6 separate regions of the Homo sapiens genome follow, and regions 1, 2, 4, 5 and 6 are each reported to be linked to region 3. The links are microRNA targets in miRTarBase. Many come from high-throughput screens and were not tested one by one. Region 3 holds a microRNA gene; each other region holds the end of a gene's coding sequence.

Evidence for each region. Region 3 holds the annotated microRNA hsa-miR-9500 (AAGGGAAGAUGGUGACCAC, at 2,162-2,180, shown strand). A microRNA usually pairs through its seed, bases 2 to 8, with sites in the 3' UTR of a target mRNA and lowers its output. Matches are read on the target gene's strand: a 7mer-m8 pairs with bases 2 to 8, a 7mer-A1 pairs with bases 2 to 7 and ends in A, and an 8mer does both.
Region 1: miRTarBase lists EIF4E3 as a target of hsa-miR-9500. Seed matches in the 3' UTR shown: 7mer-A1 at 2,158-2,164 and 7mer-A1 at 3,094-3,100.
Region 2: miRTarBase lists ELFN2 as a target of hsa-miR-9500. Seed matches in the 3' UTR shown: 7mer-m8 at 1,551-1,557.
Region 4: miRTarBase lists ARHGEF18 as a target of hsa-miR-9500. Seed matches in the 3' UTR shown: 8mer at 583-590 and 7mer-m8 at 2,417-2,423.
Region 5: miRTarBase lists MYH2 as a target of hsa-miR-9500. The part of its 3' UTR that is shown has no 7-base or 8-base seed match.
Region 6: miRTarBase lists TNFSF8 as a target of hsa-miR-9500. Seed matches in the 3' UTR shown: 8mer at 2,994-3,001 and 7mer-m8 at 1,614-1,620.

Annotation. Positions count from the first base shown.
Region 1 is chr3:71,681,166-71,685,252 of GRCh38, reverse strand. EIF4E3 (eukaryotic translation initiation factor 4E family member 3) reads left to right here. Exons shown (of 7, transcript NM_001134651.2): 7 at 525-4,087. The coding sequence ends at 571. Among named protein-coding and RNA genes, the nearest start is that of EIF4E3, 42 kb to the left of the region's middle.
Region 2 is chr22:37,369,293-37,373,379 of GRCh38, reverse strand. It overlaps ELFN2 (extracellular leucine rich repeat and fibronectin type III domain containing 2), which reads left to right. Exons shown (of 3, transcript NM_052906.5): 3 at 1-4,087. The coding sequence ends at 308. Among named protein-coding and RNA genes, the nearest start is that of ELFN2, 56 kb to the left of the region's middle.
Region 3 is chr2:218,820,931-218,825,017 of GRCh38, forward strand. It overlaps MIR9500 (microRNA 9500), which reads left to right and starts at 2,160; the gene lies at 2,160-2,224. PRKAG3 (protein kinase AMP-activated non-catalytic subunit gamma 3) reads right to left here. Exons shown (of 14, transcript NM_017431.4): 11 at 3,609-3,646; 12 at 3,292-3,438; 13 at 2,716-2,948; 14 at 1,378-2,146. The coding sequence ends at 2,832. RefSeq lists an enhancer at 1,932-3,131.
Region 4 is chr19:7,469,821-7,473,907 of GRCh38, forward strand. ARHGEF18 (Rho/Rac guanine nucleotide exchange factor 18) reads left to right here. Exons shown (of 29, transcript NM_001367823.1): 28 at 84-209; 29 at 306-2,658. The coding sequence ends at 478. Among named protein-coding and RNA genes, the nearest start is that of PEX11G, 17 kb to the right of the region's middle. RefSeq lists a silencer at 3,335-3,384.
Region 5 is chr17:10,517,436-10,521,522 of GRCh38, forward strand. MYH2 (myosin heavy chain 2) reads right to left here. Exons shown (of 40, transcript NM_017534.6): 40 at 3,713-3,997. The coding sequence ends at 3,845. It overlaps MYH1 (myosin heavy chain 1), which reads right to left and starts at 1,107. Exons shown (of 40, transcript NM_005963.4): 1 at 1,085-1,107; 2 at 805-835. The region is part of intron 2 of MYHAS (myosin heavy chain gene cluster antisense RNA); the gene reads left to right.
Region 6 is chr9:114,900,427-114,904,509 of GRCh38, forward strand. TNFSF8 (TNF superfamily member 8) reads right to left here. Exons shown (of 4, transcript NM_001244.4): 4 at 719-3,899. The coding sequence ends at 3,505. Among named protein-coding and RNA genes, the nearest start is that of TNFSF8, 28 kb to the right of the region's middle.

The sequences.
Region 1 (4,087 bases), not on the chromosome of region 3:
TGAAACTTCATTTCCCATGGAGAGTGTTGAGAGGTAGGGAGCAGGGGCACCTAGATATAATTGCTGTCACCCTGGTGTGGTTCTTTGTTTTGTTTTATTTTTAGTTTATTTTTAAAGATAGGCTTGTAAGCGGCTCTGTCTTGGGTTGTGTCAGGCACCCCCTCTCCCCACCCCCTGCAATGCATTTTGTGGGGCACATTTTCCCCTGCGGCATTTGCTTGCAGCCCAACATACTCTCTTCATCGGCTTGCTGAGATGACTCATCCTCCCAGGCACAGCAAGAAGAAACAGGCAGCATGCCCATTGCTTGTTTATTCCTTGTTTTAATTTTCATTATTACGTTTCTCAGGAAATGCACGCCTTAGCTAACAGTTACTGGCAAAAAAATAAATAAATAAATAAGGTGTTTGAGTTCTTGCCAACATTTGGGGAAGCTGAATGAGATGCCTAGAGGAGGGTTGGCCCATCCTTTGCTTAAAGTTTTCTTTCCTTTTTTTCTTTTTTGTTTTTTTTCTGTCCTTTAGCCCATGAAGAGCATCATGCTTTTGAAGGTGGACGTGGAAAACACTAATTGCACTCTGTAAAGAATTCTTTGTCCTTTGCTGATTGGTTTTGGAAACGGTCTTAACAGGAGGGAGAGTGAAGAGAAGACTTGCCGAAGCCGATGCTGGTCAATTTAGAGTGGGTTTCTGTCCTTGCAGATGGGCAATTAGGACTCAAAGTGGCAGGTGGGGTGGGGGGAGATTGTGTGGGTTTCTACCGTCACATTACTTGCTTTTTAAAAAAAACACACACAAAAAACTTTTTTTTTGGCTTTCTAAATTCTCTGTTCTTTTCACTCTGATTTTTTTTTTTTTTTGCCGTTTAAAATTCCTTATTCAGCCTAATTATTGTTTTCTACACTCCCCTTTCATTGAGGCACAAGAAATGGGTTTCCCTTTAAGTAGCTCTGCTGTACCTAGTTAATGAGAATATGCATAATCGTGACAATACTGCTTTTGAATACCACACTGTACAAGGAGGAACACTAGCTTGGAGAAATCTGTCTTCTGATTATTTGTTGTGACACATTCCTATGTACTGTGAGCTGGGCATTGTTTTTTTCTGTCCCAGGGAAAAGAAAAACCATACTTAATGTGATTTTGCACTGACAGCACACAAATCTTTAATTTTCCTTTTTAAAACATTTTTTTTTAGTGATAAAAGGAAAATAATAGTTGGATTGCATAACATGAAAACTATAATCACAATTCAGTATCAGGATATAAATCAAGCTCTAAGTCTTTGGACCCTCTGTGGAAACATTTCTAACCCGAATTTTAATTTGGCCTTTTCAACCAAAGGCTTAGAGTGGTAGCAAGGGATTTCTTCCAATAGGAAACCTGATGTTTCTGATTTAAAGAGAAGGTGATATTTTAATTGTTTGAATTAAGCTCCTTGCAAAGTTCGGGTGTGTTTACCCACTTAGGGCTTTCTTTCCCAGTCAACGCTAACACATTTTGTTAAATGATCCCTTTCCCTGCTCACATTGTGTGTCATTTCTCATCATCAGTAGTCCTCCAGCCTGGGCAGCTGTCCCCACCCTTTTTCATGTAGGTGCAGGAAGTTAAATCTCATTTCCAGGATGCATGTGAACATTTACAAAGTTGAACTTTGAGTGCATTCTGCTCATATGAATTATTGGGATTGTTGATATATATTGTATTATGCTACCAAAGAAATATTGGTTTTATTAGAAGGAAATGGTCATCCTCTGGACCATGGAGACTAGCTCAGAATACGCTGATTTCCCTCTCCTGACTTTGCCAAGCCTTTGGCTGCTTTTGCCTGATAAAGGGCAGGGCCATCTGAAGACACTTCCCCCAGTCGGCTTTGGAGTCACGGGAGCTAGTGCCTGCTCACACATTTTTCAAAAGGGCAGTGCACTCAGAACTTCACTGTACCTGGGATTTTTAATTCCTCTTGCAGTGTTGACCAGCAGAGAGACTTGAGGCTACTTTAAGCCTCCACTATGTGTTTGTAGATAAAATTCTCCATTCAAACATTTTAAAGGACTTTGAACATTATCTGCTTATGGAAGTTGTGCCCTTCACTTGGTTAGTAACCACCTCAGCCATAATACTTACCATCATAGGTTTCTTAAAATGCTTTTTTTTTTTCCCTAAACTTGAGTTTCCTTAGTGATTTCAAAATGAAGTATAAGAATATCAGATCCAGTTAGCAAAAGCCTAGGACTTGTTTCTCCAAACATTGTACTAACATTCAACTTGTTTTAAAATTATGACTCAAGAATTTTAAAAAATTATTCTGGACATGAATTAAAACTTTTTTATAATATAAGTATTTTTCTGATTGAAAAAAGGATATAATTGACTTCACTCTAATTGTCATGTATATTTCCATAAGTAAATGGATTTTGAAGTATTTTTATTTTTTGAACTTTATTTAAAGCATTTGTGATGACATGTTCAACTTTTGCATGTATGTAGCCTTTGAAGTAAAAATAAATAGGAATGTTAGGCTCACGTTAATATTTCTAGTTTCTGTTTATGATCATGGAACATGACTAGCACACAAAGTAGATTTTTGCCCCAGTGAACTTCTGCAACTGTTTCTGACCCTTTAGAAAATACCAACTGTGAGAAGGATTTAATTTGCCTAATGTTAAAAACCTATCATCTAAATTACTTTCAGAGAGGATTTTGTCAGATTTTGGTTTGGAAATTGTTTTAATTGAATATTTAATCATAATAGACTTTGTATGAACTAAGCTGATTTAATCAGTTTAAAAACCTCTCATTACCTTCTTAGATTAAAGAAGCTAATACTGTTTTGAGATAGAAGGAAATATTTTGTGGGGCATGTGACTTTTGTGTTAAGGCAGTTTACCCATCTTGGCTGATGTGGGGAAAGTGCAAACTTCCAGTAGAATCCCGGTCTTTTCATCCAAGTGCTTGCAGGGGCAGCCTTGTAGTCTGCAAAGAACCATGCAGAAACCAAAGAGCTTGCTTTTTTGTCTTTGTAATTCCTTAGGGTCTGTGATATATGCCAGGAAATCTGATTGAAACTAATATGCTTTTTATTCTCCCATTATTCCCTAAATTGTTATATCACAGGCACTTGCCTACATTGGGAAAGTAAGGACAAATAATACCCATTTAAAGTAACTTGCCTATATTTTGACTGTCTTTCGTAAGCACTTGCTGAACTGCTGACTTAACTCAGTTTTAAGATTTCCTCTTTCCCCCCAACTTTTCCACATTTCTTAAATGAGGGTGTAATTTACTGCAAACATGTACATTTAATATAATATTGCTGTTAGATTCGTGGTACACTTTATGAAGCAAAAACATGAAAAGGAAACCACAACTCTAATAAACTTTAAATTAAAGATTAAGATGACTCTTTCTCACCCCTCTTCTTGAGTTTAGCCCATGTCTACACCATGCACACAGTCACAAGACTTTATAGCTTAGAAACTTTAGGTATAATTGGGTCCTATAGACATAATATACAATCCACCAACTGAGCCTTGGCCGAACTTGTCCCTTGTTAAAGACGTAGGGCTAGCCAGCCACAGAGCTGGGTATTGAAGTCGGCAAGTTGTATCCCGGTGCAGGCGTCCTTAAATGGAGAGTACTCAGAATCTGCCAGCCTTAACCTGCCCACTAGCCACCCTAATCAAGCATTAAATATCTGATCCAATCTGGCCACTGGTGTAACTCCGTAATCAGACATCCTGTTTGTAAACAGCTCCTCCTTCTCTCCCTCTCCCTCTCAGAGACAGAAGTGGTGCTGGGGTTTGGAGTTTGAAAATAACCTTCCTATGACAGGAAGTGGGCTTTTGCTATTAGTTGCCCAACTCTTAGAGGATCCCAGCTTGTGTCTTTAGACAAAACTGACAGCCTTTGGAACGATCGCATGGTGGCGCTGCCTTCCAGCCAACAGTTCTGGCTCAGCAGCAGAATTTATCCAGCTATGTTTGTAGAATTTTTTTAAGATCCTACTGCATTTTGCTCTTAAGCTTTTATAAAAATTTGACGAGAAAATGTAAAAATGATACTTGGCAATAAGACATTTAGTTTTC
Region 2 (4,087 bases), not on the chromosome of region 3:
AGGGTGCCGACAGCCTGAGCCAGCGCGTGTCCTTCCTCAAGCCGCTGACCCGCTCCAAGCGTGACTCCACCTACTCGCAGCTCTCCCCCAGACACTACTACTCAGGGTACTCCTCCAGCCCCGAGTACTCATCCGAGAGCACGCACAAGATCTGGGAGCGCTTCCGGCCCTACAAGAAGCACCACCGGGAGGAGGTGTACATGGCCGCCGGTCACGCCCTGCGCAAGAAGGTCCAGTTCGCCAAGGACGAGGATCTGCATGACATCCTTGATTACTGGAAGGGGGTCTCCGCCCAGCAGAAGCTGTGACCCCCCCCTTCCTCCCTGGTGAGGTCGGAGCCAGAGGGCTGGGGGCCTTTTGGGGGAAGGGTCCAGGCGGCCAGGGCGGGGAGCAGACTCGGGGGCCAAGGCCCAGGAGAGGACGCACATGCAGACCCGCACGCACGCACGCACACACACACCTGACCACCACCCGACTGTGAACAAACCAACATCCGACAATAACGGACAGGAAAACAGAGACACATTTTCCTTAAAGTTTACAAACTGATACCGAAACCAGTCGTCTTTACTGTGCTGCCCAGGGACTCTGCTGGGGTGTGCAGGGCCGGGGGGCTGGCGGGGGGAGGAAGGAAGCCAAGAGAGGGTGTGGGGTCTGGGGGGTCTGGGGCTAGAAACAGGTGTGGGGGTCAAGAAAGCTGGAGTAGAGAGGGACTGAAGCCCCTCTAGGGCAGGGAGAGGGTCCCTTCCCAAGCTGGGAGTCAAGTCACCTGCAGATTTAGCATTAGACATCGGGCAATGTCTCCTTCCACTTTAGAGAGGGGGGGAAACTGAGGCCCAGAGAAGGGAGTTGACAACCCCAGGGTCACACAGCAGCTTAGCCTCAAGTCCCCCAACTTCCCAGCCCAGTGCTGTCCCGGAACCCCCTGCAGCTCTCTTGTGGACCCCTGCCCGCCCTGTGCCCACCCCACATCCCTTTCCGAAGCTGTGGTCCCTTGGGGCTGAGGGACTTGGGAATCAGGCAGGTGCTTTTTCTTCCTAGAAAGCCACATGGCAGTGCCCCCAGAGTGTGCAGCTGTGATTCAGAATCCTGGGGGGCTTTTGACCCCTATGCCGGCACCCGGGAGAAGGGAGAGGGTCCTGTTGACGGGAAAGGAGCCGAGGCAGGGCGACATTCCACCAGCCCACTTCAAGTGTCTTCCACGTGGCCTGGGAAGAGTGGGGCGTGTGGCGGGCAGGCCAGCTCCCAGGACGTCTCAGGTGCAGGCTCCCGGCCCCAGCTTCTCTGGTCCTCCGAGACCCCTGCCCACCGCAGAAGGGCAGCGGTGCACTGTGATGCCTGGAGGGCTGCAGGGAGGAGCTGTCATGGGGGACTTCCTGCCTGTCCCCATGGCCTGTGTCCCCACCTGCCCGACCCCATCGTGGGATCTCGGCTCCTATCTCAGCCGCCCACCCGGGGAAGGAGGGCTTTCTCACCCATCCCCTCTGGGCTGCTCATCCAGGCCTGGCCCCCTGGCCAGAGGGGCTCCCATGTTTCCGTGGCAATGGCCACTTCCCTCTTTCTGACCCCCCCACCCAACATCAAACAAAGCACAAACAGTGAGGCCCCCACCCGAGAGAGGGTTGAGGAGCAGGCTGGGTTCGTGGCGCCCCAGCCCCTCCCAGCCAGCCTCTGTCACCATGGTAACCCTGTGCCTGGCAGTTGGTGCCCAGAGTGACCGTTGGGCTCTGGGGTTCTCTGTCCATGTAGGCGGTGGCAGAGGGTGGTGAGGGAGGGCCAGCCTGGCAGCAGCTCCTGGGGCCAGCTCTTTTGGGAGGCAAATCTGCGGTCCTGAGACTGGGGTCTTGACCAGTCAGGATGCTGATGGGCCGGAGTCCATCATCCTTCACCTCTGGGTGGGAGCTGGCCCAGCGGGGTGTGGGGACGCCTCTACTAGCAGCTTTGCCCGCCTAGCAACATGTCGCTTGGCTGCCACCCACCTCAGCTTGGGGGGCCCCGGCTCTCCCCACGCCCCTGCCAGAGACCCCCAGTCTAGGGCCTGTGGCCCACATGGGTTTCCTGAGATTTGGGGAGTGTGACTGAGGGGCGAGGGTAGGCACTGGAATGGGTCCAAGACCGGCACTGTTGGTGGGCAGGGGCTCTGACCAGGAAAGCTAGTGCCATCCCCTGGGGACCCCAACGACCTTCCTGCTGGGGGCAGGGGGTGAGGGAGGACAGCAGAGGGCTAGGAGGCTCGGGCTCAGCTGAGTACCTCTCTCACACCAACTTTGGGGTTAACGAAGCCCAGGGCTCACTTTGAGGGTGACATTTGCAAAGAAAAGACTGTTCTCCTGGGGCGAGGAGGGGAGGGGGCGGCATGGATACGCGGAGCAGACCTCCTCCCCCGGCCCCCAAAACCTGCCCCCCAACCCCTCCTCACACCCCCTTGGCACAACTGAGAAAAGCAAGCAGGCAGAGAAGCCAGGGGTGTGAGGAAGCAGACTCCCTGTTATATTTGCATGACGATTTTACTGTATTTTTCTGAGCAAACATCTGTCGTGTATGTGCCAGTTTGTCCAGACTCCCCCGCCCCCTCTCTGATGCCCTGCTTTCCCACATTCTGTCTGTTGTGATCTGACGAGCAGCTCTTGAAACCCAGGGAGGGGTCAGCTCTGCAAAAACAGACCCAAAACAGGTGCCACCAAGACACAGCCCTGCCCCACACCCACCTCCTGTGTTTCTGAGCATTGGGCCCATGTGCCACCTCCCTTCCTCCCTCCCTCTCTCCACTGCCACCTCCCTTGTCCCCAGTTCCTTCCCCTCCTCCATGCCAGGGAGGGCAGCCCCAGGGAAGCCTCCTCAAGGGCTCTTGTCCCGGTGGAAGGGACTGTCTGTCCGTCCCGCTTGTTCCCGTTTTGTAGATGAGGAAGTCAGGGCTCCCAGACGGGCCTGGTGAATTGGCTGGCCAGCTGGGGTGGAGGATCAGTCACACTGCTGAGTGTAGGAGGCCAGGAGCTTGGGGCTTCGTGGGGGGCTTCAGGGAGAGGGTGGGGGCTTTGAGAAAGGAACCCGTGGGAAGAAGGAGCACGCCTGGGCTGGGCCCCAGGGAGGGTTCCCAGCAGCAGGAGTTAGGGGCCTGCGCTTGCCATTTCCCCATCCTTTCTGCGTGAAGATATTTAGGAAACCTCAGACTCTCTGACTGCAGGGACAGGGGCCCTTCCAAAGAGCAGGACTCTGATGATCCAGGAGGGGAACTGGCCTTGAAGACCCAGTTCATGTGGTTCTTTGTGAGGCAGAGCGGGGTCTAAGACTCGGGTCTCTGGCCTCCCAGCCAGGCCAGAGCCCCAACTGCTCAGCTTGGGGAGAGCCCACCCGGAGGCTGGCCTGCATCTGTGTCCCACGTCCTGCTCAGGATGAGTTTTTCCCAGGCGGGAGGGAAGTATTCACAAAATGTTGCCATCCAAGGTCTGGGTTTGTGATGATGATGAGCATGGTGGAGCTGGGCTGTGGTCTGGGGCAGGCCAGCAGGGCAGACACCAGGAAAAGAGGGCAGGGGGGGCCACAGGGAGGGAGGGGAGATGGAGGCCCGGTGGAGCGAGGGATGTGTGGGTGCCACGCCCTGGACCTCTGCGGGGAGGCCTCCTGCCTTGGGCCGGAACAAGGTCACACCTGGGCTTGCCTGCCTCTGTTGGAGAATCTCCTCTGAAGCTGTTTCTGGGAAGTAGCACAATGGGTCTGCTCCTTCCTGGGAGGGCACAGCAGGTGCAGCTAACCCTCTGTTGGAGCTTATGGCCTTCCAGTAGCAAAACACAGAGGTCTGGCATGAAGGCAAGAAAGCCTGGTTGGTGGGGAAACCTCGTCACGGGTCCCGGCCTTGCTTTTCCCCGCGGCAGGAAGAGTCTCTCTCTGCCCACCAAAGAATCCCTCACCTGGGCTCCCCTCCTGAGGCAGTGCAGGAGGCCTGTGGGAGCAGCCTGTGTCCAGGCTGGGGAGCCCGTGTCTGGGTAGGTCTGGGAAAAGGGCTGTCAGGGGAGCGAGGAGGGTGGGAGTAAAGAGACCTGCTTGGGAAGGCCAGGCCTGGATCGTCCCCGGGAGGCAGCTGGGGCAG
Region 3 (4,087 bases):
CGGGCTGCACACAGGGCACGTCTTCGATTCAGAGCTGGAGTGGAAGAAGCAGCCGCCGCAGCCCCGGTGGAAACTCCGTGACTCTTTTCTAGCAGCCATCATGGCTGCAAGGGCCGGGCTGTGACCAAAGGAGGGGTCTGAGGCAGGGAGGGTGGCATGTGCCCTTACAGAGAAGGTCCCACAGAGCAGAGCCACCCAGAGGCACAGCCTCAAAGGACTGACCTGTTACAAGATCCCAGAGCCCTAGGCTCCCCAGGAACACTGTCACTGGAGAGATCCTCTCTGGGCCCAGACCCAACCATCACCCAACTCCAATCCTCTCCCTTGAGCCCAAGACCCTGGACCTTCCCTGGGCGGGACCACAGCAGAGCCAGCACTGACCCTCAGGTTTTGGCAAAATGTCTAGTGAGGGAACATCTTCATTTATGGTCCAACCAATTCAGTACAAAGCCTCTGCCTTCTCGCTCTGTGAGGTAAGGGGAAGGGGTCATGTTTTAGAGACAGTAATCTCCCCCTTCTCTGGACAGCCAGACATGTGGTGCCCGTTGCCACAGGGAAGGTGACATAGCAGAAGCGAGCCTTGGCTTTGGAATTTTAAAAGCTTGATTCTGAAGGTGGGTGGCAAGAACTCAGGACACTTACAGTGCATTTGGAAGAATATATGATGGGTTAAAGAATAAAAGCCTCCTCTCTCCCCCACTGGTCAAGATTCCATAGGTTGGCAGGGCTTGGGGAGCAAGGCGAATGTTGACATTTCTGGAATTCTTGAGAAAAGGACCCTGAGAAGGAGGTTGCGGCTAAAGAGGGGGAAAGTATGACAAATACTCCATATAGGTTTGGAGGTGATAAGTGTAGGCAAGCACTGGGTAGAAGAACCCACACGCTTCCTGGGTAGAGCCTGGGAAAACAGCAAGCCACAGAGCGGAACAAGGGACTGGGCTGTCTATCTTAGCAGTTGGCCTGGAACAGAATTACTGAGCTTCCTGAAGCCAGAGGGTGTGCAGGGCCAGGAGCTAGAATCTTCCACATGCTCCAAGCCACAGGTCCCCAAATAGGCTTTGTGGAAGTGAAGGAGCCCCTGGCAGACCTTGCATGACCAACTGATGACCAGATGGGGAGGGGATGTCCAGGCAGGTGCGAGCATGGACGGATGATGATAGCCGAGGAACAGAGTCTTACATGACTTAAAGCCACACCCCCACCCGACCGAGCTTAACCCCAGGAAAAGGTCAGGGGGAGACTTTGAATTGACTGAGATTAATTTCTACCACCTGCTGAAACGGGGTTCCTAATAGAAATTACATTCTGTGTTAGAAAAATAAAGTTATGCTTCTTGCAGATTAGAGTTTGTAGGCTGAGTTGTACCTACTATATAAGTAATGAATTAATTTTTTCTTTATGATTTTGTAAAGAAAAGAGAAGAAAGAAATTTCAGTAGAATAGCGCTACATTGCAAGAGAAACGGCACTTGTGATTTTTATCCATTTTCCTTCTAGTCTTTGAATTTAGAAAGCACAAGTCTCTTGCCACAAGTTCAGGTCAAATGACTGCAGCATTTTGAGTGAAACCAATAAAATCTAAGTTCATGGATTGTTCCTTTTGTTTTGTTTTCTCAATTGCTCATTCTCAGGGGTCCATATACAAGGCCATCCATCCCTGGAGACTAAGAACATGGCTCACTGCGAGAGCTAAGGAGTTTTCTGGACAAGAATGGAGGGAGGACTCCCCACCTCCAACAGGCAGTTCTATAAATAACGGCTGCTCCATGGTGGCCCCTGAAATGCAGCATTTCAGCAGCCTTGAAATGACAAAGCCTGGAGAGTAGGAGGGCAGTGGCGACGTTGCTGGGAACAACAGCTGGGACTCCCAGGAGCTGAAGGCTGAAGCCATAGGTAGCCCAGAAACCGAGGAATCCAGAAGCCCTGACTAAACCCACTGGGGCCATCCGACCCAGTCAGGCGGCAAGGGGATGGGCGGGCATGGAGCACAGATGGCCCTGGGGTAATCCTAGTGCCTCTGGTTCAGGGACCTCCAAGCTTGACTCAGCTGTTCTCCTTAATTTCATCATCCCATGGTGCACTGGGCATGCCCGAGGGCTTCTGGGAGCACAGGTAGGGCAAGGGCAATTTGGGAGGGCTGAAGAAGCCTGTGGGGAAAAGAAAAGGGAAGATGGTGACCACATAGGAGGGACAGCGGCCTTTCCAACAGGGGACCCTTGCCAGCCATGGTGAGTAGATGGAATCTGTGCCCATCCTCTGCAAGCCCCTAGCAAACGTGTGACCAGGAAAGAGTCTGAGATCATGTCACATTTCCTGAGATGAGCACGTAGGTAGAAGCTCCTTCCTTTAAGCTTTAGTTCTTACTGGGGATGGAAATTCCATCCAACAAATGTTGATATAGCTTGCTTCCTTCTAAGGGGATTTCCAGCAGGTGGAAATTGAATTGTGAGGGAACAAGTAAATCTTCCCAGAGTGTCTGAAGTCACATCGCAGCCTTAGCTTTTAGCCGGGGCTTTGTCCCTCCCTTCTAGGACAGTCTCCATGACCTCAGCTGAAAATGGGACAAAGTGGGGACCTGTGAGTCCTTACACTTGCAGTTTTCACAGGGCTGCTCAGCTTTGAGCTTGGCCACTCCCATCCTCAGGGTGTCCCAATCTGAGATCCAGGAAATCAGGAAGACTAAGAGGCTGGTGTCATGGCCCAGGGCAGAGCCTACCTGAATCATAGCTGAACCAGCAAATGGGGGTGGGGGAAGATGAAGGCTGAGTTCTCCAGTTCCCTTCATTGGCTTCCAGGTGTGCAGGTGGCTTGGGATTGAGGACTCAGATCTTCTCAGGCCCCGAGGGCATCGATGCCAGCAGGGCTGAGCACCAGTGCCTGAAGGATGTCGGAGAGGGAGACCACGCCCAAGAGATGCTGGGTCTCGTCCACTAGCACCAGCCTGTGTACCTGTGGGTCCGCAATGTTCAGTGAGGGGGCAGAGCCATGGGGCTACAGCAGCTACTGAGGTTGGTGCCAAGAATCAGGGGAAACAACCCAACATGACTGAGGGAGAGAGCGTCTCCTAGAAACCAGTTAGGGATGGTGTGACCGGCCTAAGGTGATCAGTTGGCAGTGACCCCTGGCATAAGGGCCCCATGGACAGGACCAGGTGCAGGCCAGTGTGGGCACCAGGAGTTGGTCATGAAATGGAAGGATAGGCCAGGTGCCCGATGTTCAGGGATGGCTGGAGCCGTGCATGAGAAGGACTGGGCTATATGTGTTGGGGGCATGAATGGAGGGCACACGGTACCTGCTCCCGAGCAATCCTGTCGATCACTTCCCCCAAGCTCTCGTGGGGCTGGCAGGAAAGGACTCCCTCCAGACATAGTGTCCTCTGCCTCAGGGCTTCTCCCACACTCATGTCCAGGTGGTTGTAGGTTTGCTGGGCAGCCAGGTGCTGGGGCAGAGAGAGAAGTATGGCTCCTAGTCACCCCCTTGCCTGGGCTCCTACCCTACAGATGTCAACCCCTGCATACTTGTCAAGGTCCCCCTGGTCCACAGAGGCCCCCCACCCATCCCCACACCCTTAGCCTCCCTGCAGCATCCCACCTTTCCAGCGACACTTACAATCACATCAAAGCGGGAATAGAGGCCCACGACCTGACCTGCAGAGGGTGGTTGTGGGGGGTGGGGGGAGAAAGACAGGGAAGAGGCTCCGGTCAGAACCGGGGTGCTGTGTAGAGGGCCTAGGGCTATTTGCATCAGGGTGCCACTACCAGAACCCAAGGATCAAACTTAGCATCCCAGAGTGAGACAGCCTGACATTGAGCATCCTGAGGAAATGCAGTGTGAGTAACATGGCACCACCTACAAAATAGTCTAGCCTCGAATTTATTGCCCAAATCTCTTCAAGCCTTTAGATATAATTTCAGTTTACAGGAAACCCAGGAATAGAGAACAAAGTAAAGGCCAGCTCTAGAAAGCAAACAGACAAATCTGGATGTGGGGTATCCTATAGGACAACTGACCCAGGCTTTTCAACTCACCCACGTCATAACAATTTAGGGGGAATGGAGCTGTTATAGATTTAAAGAGATTTAAGGAAC
Region 4 (4,087 bases), not on the chromosome of region 3:
GCCCCTCTGCTCTCGGAGGCTGCCCTGGCGGGTGGGGACAGCTGGCCAGCCTGGAGCTGGCCCAAATACCTTCTCTCTTCCAGCGTCCTTCGACCTGAAGCAGCAGCTGCTGCTCAACAAGCTCATGGGGAAAGATGAGAGCACCTCACGGAACCGCCGCTCGCTGAGCCCTATCCTGCCCGGCAGACACAGTCCTGCGCCCCCACCAGGTGAGCCCCCACCCCCTGACATGAGCCCAGTCCCAGGGCAGCGGGGCTGCGGCACCACCCGGCGACTGCTCAGTCTGAACCCTCTCTCTGTTCCAGACCCTGGCTTCCCCGCCCCGAGCCCACCGCCAGCTGACAGCCCCTCCGAGGGCTTCTCTCTCAAGGCCGGGGGCACAGCCCTCCTGCCCGGGCCCCCAGCTCCCTCGCCACTGCCGGCCACACCACTCAGCGCCAAGGAGGACGCCAGCAAAGAAGACGTCATCTTCTTCTAAAAGGGCCGTGACTCAAGGTGCAAGGCCCCTCCCTGCCCTGCCCACCCTTCCTGCTCTCTGGGGACCCCCATGGGGTCACCATGCCCACCCAGCTGTCCCCTCCTCTTCCCTAGCAAACCACTGATGACCGCCTGGCAGGGGCCAGCCTGTCGGTGCTCTGGGCCTTGCAGCTGTTTCTGTAGGGTTAGCGGTGGTGCCGGGGTCACTTTCTGAATCTCTTTTTTTTTTTTTCAAAAAGGAAAGTTTTTAATGGAAAGTTGAGCCAGAACTAAACCAGGGAGCTGTCTGAAATCATAGCACCCCATCCGGGTGGCGGGGAGATCAACTCCGAGCTGTTTTTCCGAGGCAGTGAGGAACGGTGCCGGCTCTGCACGGAGCTGAGGACAGGACAGACCTTGCTTTGAGAAGGAGCTGCCGGCCGGGGCCACGCTCCACAGCCGCCGCGCGACAGTGGAGCCAAGGGTTAGGGCACCAGGAGGGGCCAGGTGGCGTCGGCAGCATCTGTCCCCAGAATCAGGCAGAATCCACTTCCCAAACAGAGCCCCACGCAGGTTCACCATGAACCTCAGGGTCAGGGAATGAGCCAGGCACGGGGGCATGGGCAGAGAGGGCCACGGGGCAGGGCCCACTGAGGGAACATCAGTGGCCCTCCAGTCAGGTTCTGTGGGTTTGGAAGCCCATCGTGAAAGGGGCTGACCTTTGCCCCTTTTTACTTGGCATTGGTTTTGAAACCAGCTGTTTCCCAAACTCTGCTTCCCAAGGGCAACCGTTGCTGTTCACACGCTCAGCCTGTCTGGGGGAGCGGGCCTCTAGCTTCAGCCAGGGCGGGTACACACCCTGGGCACAGGGTCCTCAGCCCCCGGGAAATGAGCTCCCAGGGCTGGCGTCCCACCTTCCAGGTGGGGGCTGGCACATCACAGACTGTCGAGAGCGCCATGTCCCAGGGCATGCAGAGGATGCACCTAGAGACGTTGCAGCAAGTGGACAAGTGGCCGCTGTGCGGGCCCCTCGCTTGTAGTGAGCTGTTGCAGCTTACGGTCCGTTCCCTGGAGGGGTGGAGGAAGGAGGTGTTGGGCAGCATCAAAGGTGCTGGGACATCCCAGGGTGGTGAGATCCATCCACGATCCAGCTCCGGTGGAGAAAGGGCCCATGTCAAGCCTTGTTCTGCACCCCAAGCATTGGTGGTAGGACTGGGTCCTGGCTGATCGTCCTTGTTCCCAGTGGGGTACATGTGAGCCCCTGCCAGGGCCAAGTCCTTCTCCCGAACCCAGGGTCCTGGGAACTGCAGATCCCGGGGGGATTCAGCCCTTCTCCCACTGTGCTGGCAGAGGCACTCCTGTGACGCTGAATACAGTGAACAGGGACATTCCCGCCACTCGGGGACAGATGGGCACAAGGGAGGGGAAACTCCATCAGGAAGTGCTCCCCTGGGCAGAGGCGCCCACTGGGTGCTGTGGGCTCAGGAGGGGGCGGGGCAGGAGCTGGTGCCAACCGGGAACCAGAGCCCCACAGCCATACAGCCCATTGGTGACAAGGTCCTGAGAACACAGTGGCCAGGTGTCCCCAGGCTCCTGGCCCCTCCGACGACCTCAACTCTGCCCAGCCCGGTCCCTGGCCATCAGCGACGCTGTCCGCCCCCCGTCAGATCCCATGTGTGCCATGTTTATCATCAGTGTTTTGTATTTTTGTACTGAGTATCGGAGCACTTTACAGAAGCTGACTGTACATTCCTGTTCTGTTGTGAAGAGAACATTCCCAGACCCTGGCACCCTCCTGAGCCGGCGTGTGCCGGTCCAGCCCTCCGAGATGCCACAATTCCTTGGATGGGGGAGAAGTTCAAGGAATTTCTGCTCGGCCACGCGGTGGGAACCCCGCGTCCCCGCCATGTGGCAGAGGGGTCTCAGTCGTGCTAGGCATCGGGCGGCAGCGCCGACAGCCCTTCCCTCGCCAGTGCCCCTCGGCCACTCCTGGGTTGGAGCCCGATTTTATTTGTAAAGTTGACAGTCGAGCAAATGTTCCTATTTTCGTGGGATCTGCACACGTCTTTGTCAGTTGTGGTCATGATCTTAGTCACCTGCTAATTATTTTTACAATGATTACAACATTTCCTCACTGCGGGATATTTCTGACCCGCTTTAGAACTTAAGACCTGATTCTAGCAATAAACGTGTCCGAGATGAGCGGTGACTGGCGTGCACGTTCTTGGAGGTTTTATTTGAGGATTTTCTTCTGCCCAAACGTTGCTGCAGGAGTAGCAGGTTCTGTTGGGGGCTCCCCATGGCTCCTGCCCCTCAGCTCGCTCACCTGCCCTCCGTGTCCTGCTTAACGCTCTGAAGACCCCTTCAGGTCCAGTCCCCAGGAGTTGTTGGGGGTTTTGTTTTTGTTTTTGTTTCTGTTTTTTTGGTTTGTTTGTTTTTTTGAGACAGAGTCTTGCTCTGTCGCCCAGGCTGGAGACCAGTGGCAGGTTCTCAGCTCACTGCAACCTCTGCCTCCCGGGTTCAAGCACTTCTCCTGCCTCAGCCTCCTGAGTAGCTGGGATTACAGGTGTGCACCACCACGCCCAGCTAATTTTTGTATTTTTTTAGTAGACATGGGGTTTCGCCATGTTGGCGAGGCTGGTCTCGAACTCCTGACCTCAAGTGATCTGCCCGCCTCAGCCTCCCAAAGTGCTGGGATTACGGGCACAGGGCAGGAGTGGGGCGTGGAGGTGCCTGTGGAGGGTCCTGCCCACCGGGTACACTTCAGGCTTTGGTGGCGCCTCCACGAAAATCTTTTTGCTTTTAATCCACAATAACCGCAAAGGCTGGAACTTTCACTTCCTCCATCTGGGGTGAGAGGCAGCTTGGCCATGAGTATGAAATCATCATTTCCACCTGGTCTGAGTCCCGGTCCAGTGAGGCGAGGACCCTGCTGTTTCAACAGAGGGTTTCCCATCACAAGGGGACTAGGTGTAAAGTCGATCACTAGCTCACTAGGAAGCGCAAAAAGGGAACTCTCAGGCAGCACTGTCCACCAGGAAGATGATGCAGGCCACGTGTGGAATTTTTCATTTTTAGTAGCCATATTAAAAAAGTAAAAGGAGGGCCGGGCACAGTGGCTCATCCCTGTAATCCCAGCATTTTGGGGAGGCGGGGGCTGAGGCAGGAGGATAGCTTGAGCCCAGGAGTTCAAGACCAGCCTGGGCAACATAGTGAAACCCCTTCACAGAAAAATTAAAAAATTAGCCAGGTTGGCCGGGCGCAGTGGCTCACGCGTGTAATCCCAGCACTTTGGGAAGCCAAGGTGGGCAGATTACGAGGTCAGGAGATCGAGACCATCCTGGCTAACAAGGTGAAACCCCGTCTCAACTAAAAATACAGAAATTAGCCGGGCGTGGTGGCGGGCGCCTGTAGTCCCAGCTACTCGGGAGGCTGAAGCAGGAGAATGGCGTGAACCCAGGAGGCGGAGCTTGCGGTGAGCCGAGATTGCGCCACTGCACTCAGCCTAGGCAATAGAGCGAGACTCCGTCTCAAAAAAAAAAAAAAAAAAAAAAAAATTAGCCAGGTATGGTGGCGTGCACCTGTAATCCCAGCTACACAGGAGGCCAAGGCAGGAGGATTGCTTGAGCCT
Region 5 (4,087 bases), not on the chromosome of region 3:
TTTCTTGCTCTATTATTAACATTTTTATAACAATTTCACAAAACTTGTTCTTTTCAGGATCCCCCTCTTGCCACATTAGCTAGCATTCATTAATGCTGTCAATAATCTTCATGTATATTCTACTTTATAATAATAAAGATACCTTTTCCAGGGAAGCTCATTTGGATACATTTCTCCCATTGAAACTATGTTGACTCAGATAACATAATTAAAATGCTTCATCTTGCTGAATATGCTGACAATCATGTTTCGTATTGTGTGTGTGTATATATACATATGTGTGTGTGTGTGTGTATATATTCGTTAATTTTTATTTTATAGATTGTGAAACAACATGCAGTTAAGCAACTTTTTCCAAGGCAAAGATTCAGACCATTCTATTTATCCAATTAGACATCATCTCTCATAGGTTTTTATATTTATAGTGCTGAGGAAAAGCCATGGTATAGAAAATTTAAATTTTCTCTATAATTGAGTAACACTTTGAAATGTTACATTGCATATTGTAATGCAGTCATTTAAAAGATAAACTACAATGCTGGAAATAGTGAATGAAATTCACTATTGTGAATAAAATTCCCAAGGACTCTGAGAAAGCATTTTCATATATTGCGAGGGATATGAGTTAAGGAGAACCAGTTTCTAAAGTCATTCTCCATTTTTTAAGAGAAGCGTGATCAACCATGAAATGGAAATGATTTTTTTTATCACTTCCCTCACCCCGCCCCTCACCACTGTCCAAACCACTGCAGAAGATTCCTTGCACTCTGTGAGGAATGAGAAAAAAAAAAATCAGAATCTTACCGTAGAGATGCGACCTTAAAGTGGATCAGAACTGTAAGAAAAAGAGCAAACCTCTTCTGATTAAATTATAACAATTCCCGATTATAGAACAATTCTTAACTGAGAACCAGGAAATGACTGGGAAGACTACAACATCTAATTAAAATTGCTACGGAGTAAGCTGGTGCTTCACTGGCAGGGCTGCCAGGGACAGTGGGAGCCAGGATGTGTGGCATGCACGCGGGCAGCCAGACATCCCTTACCGTCCTCCAGACAGAGCCCTGTCCTCACACACACTTACCTTGAAGCTTTATGAGGAGAGACAAGTCATACTCATTCCAAGGGTACTTTTATAGGCTCAAATATGGAAAACACGTAACCTCCTCCTCTTTCTTAAAACATATTTGGCAAAACATGTTTTTGGCATTGAAGGTCTCCAAGCCTAATTCCCCTCATATTAAAGATGTTTGGATATAATTAGAAATATTTCCTCTCATATTGGGTTAAGTATATGAATCAATCTCCTATAAATAATTTGAGTCGTTGGCAATCTTAAAGTTGTTGGCCTTTGGAATGTAAGGTGTTGTTTCAAAGACAGCTAAGTTCTGGAATCCCTGGACTTTGTTGCCTACTGCTCTTCTGTTTCACAGAGTCGCCTGTGTGAAGTCTTTTCAACTGCCTGCGCAGTTACAGATAGTGTACTCGGGAGGAAAACTTCTGCTCTTTAGCAGAGGGTTATAAAAACGTTGCTTTCTCTCAAAAAGATTTCCTTTTTTTTTTTTTTTTTTTTTTTGCAATTTATTGTGCTTTTTCAAAGTTGCTTGGAAATTTAATTTTGAAACTTGCTTCATGAAGAGCAGCCAAAGATAGCTTCTTTTGTTTCCTTCAATCAGTCGCCTCTTATTCATTGTCAAATCATTCCACCGGCACTTCGGACTTGCTCCGAAATTGCATTGCCTTCCAAACAGAGATGTCCTGCTTCTCTCATTTTTTTTTGGTGCCCAAGTTGCTTGTGAAATCTTGTTTCCTCTATGAAACTCAACATAAGAAAATATTGGAAACAGGGTATTTCTCTGTCTAAATATGCAGCATCGATGATTTTTCCTCTATCAGCAGTCCATGGGATATATTTAGTATTTTGCTTACAAACAATACCTGAATATTGTTTTCTATTTTAATTTTTTAAAAAAGTTTATTTTACTGTCTTTGTGGCCTCACGTCTCTGTCTGTCAGCATTGTCTGGCTAGGACTGGGACAACATTTGCTTAATATACCTGGTTTTGCACCCACATCTGTATTATTGTACTTATATCTCAATTGATTTAATGGCTATAGCTTGCCTTATGAAAGGAGATATCTGGATATACTAGTTGTAAAGGTCACATAGTTTTATTACCATAAGGGATCATCTAATTCATCTTTCTCATTTTACTAATAAAGCAACTGAGATCCAAAAAATAGAAGAGAATCTCCACAAATCACACAGCAGTTTAGACTCTGGTCATCTGACTTGCGGTCCAGCGTACTCACTTGTGACACTCTTCTACCTGGGGTAGATTAAAGCCATCAGGAAGGGTATTGCAGGGATGTGCGTCTGAGAGGGCCTTTCCTAGCCATCTATTAGCCTGCTTTGTTACCACAGGTACCTAATTTTACTTTCTTACATGTCTGTTTCTTTACTAGGCACCTGCAAAATGTGGGTAATGATTTTCAGGAAGATAAAACATTTTAATAATGCTCTCAATAGGATCTGATGGGAATCTTCAGACAACCTTTTGTCTTGCTCTGGATAAACTTTTCAATAAGTAGGAAGTAAGATATTGTTTTTGTTTATTACTGCCACGTTATAAAGCACTTAAGCAATTCCACGTGATACAGGAACAAAGTGAAAGAGGGGCTTATGCAGCGAGAAGAGCAATTCCACACCCTTTCTAAGGCCAGTGCGACAGTGTGAATCCAACTTACCTGTTAAACTACCATGTCTAATTTACATCATTTTCACACAGTGCCATTTAGACCAAGATACTCTTGCTTTCTATTTGATGGGAAGTTACCATTTAGCTCTTCCTTTATTCTGTCGAGGAAGGTTATATTTTTGGCTATGCATCTCAGCTGCATCCAGTTTAAAAATCTTGATCCTCTAGGAAAACGTCTCTGAGTGGTCCAGATTGCTATGATATCTACTTTTTGTACCAAACTCATACCCATCATTATGTGTGTTGAATATAGATTTGAATAACCTACTTTGAGATCATATTTTCTTGACACTTTTAGTCATTTATTTTGGCTCTTTATATGATTATCTGGGAGACCATAAAGATTGGAAACATAAGCTAATAGCTCATGGATACTACATTATAACGTAAAAATAATATTCTCTATGTCTCCAGATTTGATAGACACCCTGTAGTTTTCATAGGGAGAAGAGTCATATTTAATTTAATTTTGAAACTTGCTTCGTGAAGAACAAGGTCGTGTCAAACCCATTACCCAGTGCACCTACTGTGGGCATATGGTACATTGGAATTGATAATGTAAATATCCATGGGCTAATTAAGAATATTTTGTATTTATATTCTTGATAACAGTTATTCAACAAAGAGAATTAATGATACAATTCAGTTTGAATCCCCTATGTGAGAATATAGCTAGTACTATCCTGAAAAAGGTTCATGTTAGGGGAAGCAGGAGCTTTCTAAGATTTTACTGTACTCAGATATCAGGAAAGGTTAGAAAGAAATAAAATAGACTTCCAAATTTCTGTTCATTAGAACAGTCTTTCTGGATAAGTGACATCTTTACAGCCTTAAAGTGTTGCCGTAGACCCCCAAAAAAGTCACCAATTGAATGTGATTGTTTGACAACTCTGGTGACTATTCAAACTTTGACATGGCTTCAGGAAAGAGAAAAGACAAGACCAGTCTAAGGATATTGTTTGCAAACTACCCTATGCTTTATTTCCTTTGCAACAGGGTAGAATACACAATAATTACAGAGGGAAATGACCAAAGATGTCACATTTTGTGCCTGTCTTCAGTCATTCCATGGCATCAGGACATGATCACTCTTCACTTATGACTTTTGTGTGAACCTCCCGGCTCTTCACCCGCAGTTTGTTCACCTGGGACTCAGCAATGTCAGCCCGTTCCTCGGCCTCCTCCAGCTCATGCTGGAGCTTGCGGAATTTAGCTAGATTGGTGTTGGATTGTTCCTCCTGAGAATAAAAATGGAATTGTAAGGAACTCATACTTGCATCTTTCTAGACTCTTTAGACCTAATAGAAGAAAGGACTTGGCATCTATGG
Region 6 (4,083 bases), not on the chromosome of region 3:
AGTGAGAGAGCTGGCATTTGAGCCCAGTCTCATATTCCAATCTCCATTATTTCCCACCAGCCTTGATAGGGCCTCCTATAGCCTTTCTGCAATTCCTCAGGTCACGTCTTTCCAACCTTACTTTGGACAGTCCCCACATTTGGAGGTTTCCTCTGCTCTTCCCTGCTCTCGCCCCGGTCACTCTGGGATGGTGATTTGAATGTGAGACACAGGTGGTCTCTATCCTCTATAGACTCAGTACATGGTCAATATATGATTCAGAAAAGGGTTAGAGGCCAGGTGTGGTTGCTCACGCCTGTAATCCTAGCTCTTTGAGAGGCCATGGTGGGCAGATTGCTTGAGGTCAGGAGTTCGAGATCAGCCTGGCCAACATGGTGAAATCCCGTCTCTACTAAAAACGCAAAAATCAGCTGGGTGTGGTGGTGCGTGCCTGTAGTCCCAGCTACTCAGGAGGCTGAGGTAGGAGGATCACTTGAACCCAGGAAGGGGAGGCTGCAGTGAGCCAAGATAGCACCACTCCACTCCAGTTTGGATGACTCTACATTGACTTGTTATGTTTTTGTGAGCTCACTTACCATCTTCCTCTACAAGTTCTGCAAGTACACTGAGTGTGTGTGTGTGTGTGTGTGGTGGGGAGGTGGGGTTCAGAGGGTAGGAGCAAGGGAAGGAGCTCAAGTTGAGTTTTTACCAAAGAGGCATATGTTTTAGGTAGCCTGAGTTCCCAGTTAGATAAATTATTTATTTTACTTGCATAGATATCATTTTACTCATGGAGTATCATTTGCTCATAACATTCCCAGGGGCTGGTTAACCCTCAAGAGTAACAGAATTTAGTTTTAAACTTCCTGGGTTGCCTACTCCCTACATATCTATCAGTTGAGTTATTAATGATTATTCTCTTTTTTTGTTTGTTTGGTTACATTATTCATTTAAATGATGTACCCCTTGTGTCTTTAGGTGTTGGCTTTCTTAGCATTGCTTGACAGAGACTGAGATTAGAAACCACTCACAGTGCAAAAGTCAGGTACCTCTGCTCAGAGAACAGTTGGTGAAAAATGAAAATGGAATCTTTCTCGAGTTAGAATGTGAGATGGCAAAAAAATTGCTTAGTTAACACACAGTTGGGTTGCATATACCTTTTCAAGAATGCATGAGTTGGTTTAAGCAAGATTCATTTGTCCTATGCAGTTAGTGTGTGACTCAAATGCCAGCCATTTCCCTGTTTTTTTAGCCTTGAGTCTCAAAGTCTGTTTTGTTTTTTACCACAGACCATTTGGCTTGCTGAATTCAACACCTCTTCCAATGCCTGCTTCTCCCAAAGAATCTACTCACAGAAAGAGTTAAAGAGAAATGTAGACTTTACTAAATATTTCATAGAGGAGACCTAGGAGGAGGTTGACACAGCACACTGCTCAGCAGATGACTTAAAATTTTCCCTTAGCCATTTTTGTTCTCTCAAGTCCCTTTCATCCATACCACCACTGCTGATTTGTTCTTTCTTTTTTTCTTTTAAATCTTTTCTAGCTTTCCTTCTGACAAACTTTGCTGGAGTCCTACTCCTTTTCTCTCCTTCTTGAGAAAAATGCAAATTTTGCTCCATGTTTTGGTATAGCAGGGAAGCTTCCATCTTTTTTTACTGAAGCATAACATCAGGGCCTACATTCCATCTCAAACGGCTTGTCAAGGTCCTTCCACAAATAAGATGTTCCTCCAAAGATGATGTACAGATGCCAAGTTGGATATAGCTAGAGAAATCTCATGGCTACCCCAATCAGGAGAGAGGTTGCTGTTTCTCAGAAGTCCTCCTCCCCACTTCCAGGGTCATCATTGTCTCTCAACAACTTTGTGGGGATATAAAAACCCTCGCGGAACTGGTTTTCTGAGAGGTGTTTGAAGCAGGAATATATTATGCAGGGGATGGAGCAGCCATTCCCTGGCTAGATGACCACATCACTGTTGCACACTGATTGTTTGCTAAAGGCACAATGCTTTCCTGACCAGAAATGAAAAATGCCTGCTGCTCAATTATTGTCAATCTAACTGGAATAGAGTCAGGCCTCGTCAGATGGTTTCCCAAACACCCAGATGGTCTCTTAGATTCTGGATGGTCAGTGTGGTAGTTCTTTCCATTACATCCTTGAGATCCTGCTGTTCACACCATTCAGCAGGGCACCCTGAACCTTGTCCCCATATTCTGGCTCTGCTGAGATGAGATGCAGTCAGGTGTTACTAGTGTCTTCAATTATATACTGGGGTAGGGGGGCCTTATTTTGGTTGGAGAGCTTCCAAAATTGTGTCTGGAATCTCAGTTCCCAGGGTCTGGTCTTCTGAGATGGAAGAGGTTTTGAAGCAATTCAAACCCAGTCCTTTCATTTTCTAGACTTGGATCCTGAGTTCCAGGGAGGGGAAGGTATAGTGAATTCTTATAATTTTATGTTGCCTTGGCAACCATTTTGTATACAAGTTTAATTTCTCATACCAGAAGCCGGGCTTAGTCACCCTTGATATGGGTTTCTGGTTCTATACCACACCTCTGGCCAGAGACAAGAACTTAGAGGCATCTTTCCTGCCTAGCAGACTGGATTCCCCACTTCTCTGTTGCTTCCTTCAGACAGACCATTCAGGCATTTGCCAGTGAATTGAGAGTGACCACACCCTATTTCTTTACCTACATTGTTAACTGTCTTGCTGTCTCTGTCTGACTTCTTATTCCTGCCTCATGTAACCTAGAGAAGGAGGACTGCCCTTCAGACTCATTATGCCCTTTCTGTCCAGGATCTGTAAGTAAAAGTCTTTGAACTTGTTTTCCATTGTGGTGGTGTATTAAATTTGTGCTTTCCATCTCAGGAACAGGGGGCTGTCCCAGCCTGGTTTTCCCTGGGGGTTCCTAGGGGTGGGGTCATATGGAGTACAAGATCAGCCTCCTAGTGCCAGAGTGACAGTCAGACAGGCATAAACTGGGCATGGTTCAGTCACAAGTGTATCTGCCAGTATAGGGAAGTTTCCTGTGTGAGAGAGTCCTTGATCGCGACTTGGACAACTAAGTATTAGGCCATCTGCAGATAAAAGAAGTATCCCGTGAAGGGCACAGTGTAAACACTCACACCCAGCTCCCCTTCATTTCCCATTAGGGCAGAGTTGCTAGCTGCTCTGGTACTGGAGCCCCATTTTAACTGGAGGCTCTCAAAACAGAAGAAATAGATCAAGACCATACAGTGAATTAGAGGTTGGGCTGGGACATCCATTCATCCCTTCTGATTCTGTGTGGGGCTCTGCCCACCACACTACATTGCTTCCCTGCCTGCTATCTGAAAGATACTTCACTAAAAACTCTCTTTTTAACCCTGGAGCTGTATCTTTCCAAGAGACAGAAGGAGAAGTATACTATTTAATACCCTGTGTAGTTTGTCTTGGTCTAAAGTTTTCTTTTTGCCCAAGTGTTTGGAGGGATGAAATACTGTATGGTAGAGAGGCGCTTTCTTCCTGAAGGCCAAGAGAAACTGTTCAGTCTGAATTACTGTATAAGAAGATGGACAACACATTCTCAAGAGGAAAGGTGCTTGTATCTATGTACTGGAATGTATCCACATTGACTGATATGGTGGTGTTGACCTGCAGGTAATCCAGCAAGAATTGAGAGAGATTCTGGTATACGTGTTTCGTTTGCATTCCAGACTCACACACTGTCACCAGGGCCTGTTTTTTGATATGCTTGTTGATGAGAAGCTCCAACTTCAGATCGACAGAATTATTTGGGCATTGTACAAGAAACTGCAGTTGGCAAATGATGAAGTACAAACCAGGGAATTGGATCACCAGATTCCCATCCTGATATCTGACTCCATGGAGAATGCCATCTTTGTTCCAAGACAACTTGGTTTTGTTTAGATGCTTTGCCACTAGAAAGAGAAGTATAGAAAACAGAATTATTGAGAAGATTGTAGGTACGCATTGCAAAATTCTAAGTCTTTGTTCAAAGTTTCCCATTCAAGACCCATGTTTTCTGTAATGTTCCAATCATCTGAATATCTTCCATGTTACTCCCTCTAGAGTCTACTTATTACTCAAGGCACAGGTATAAAA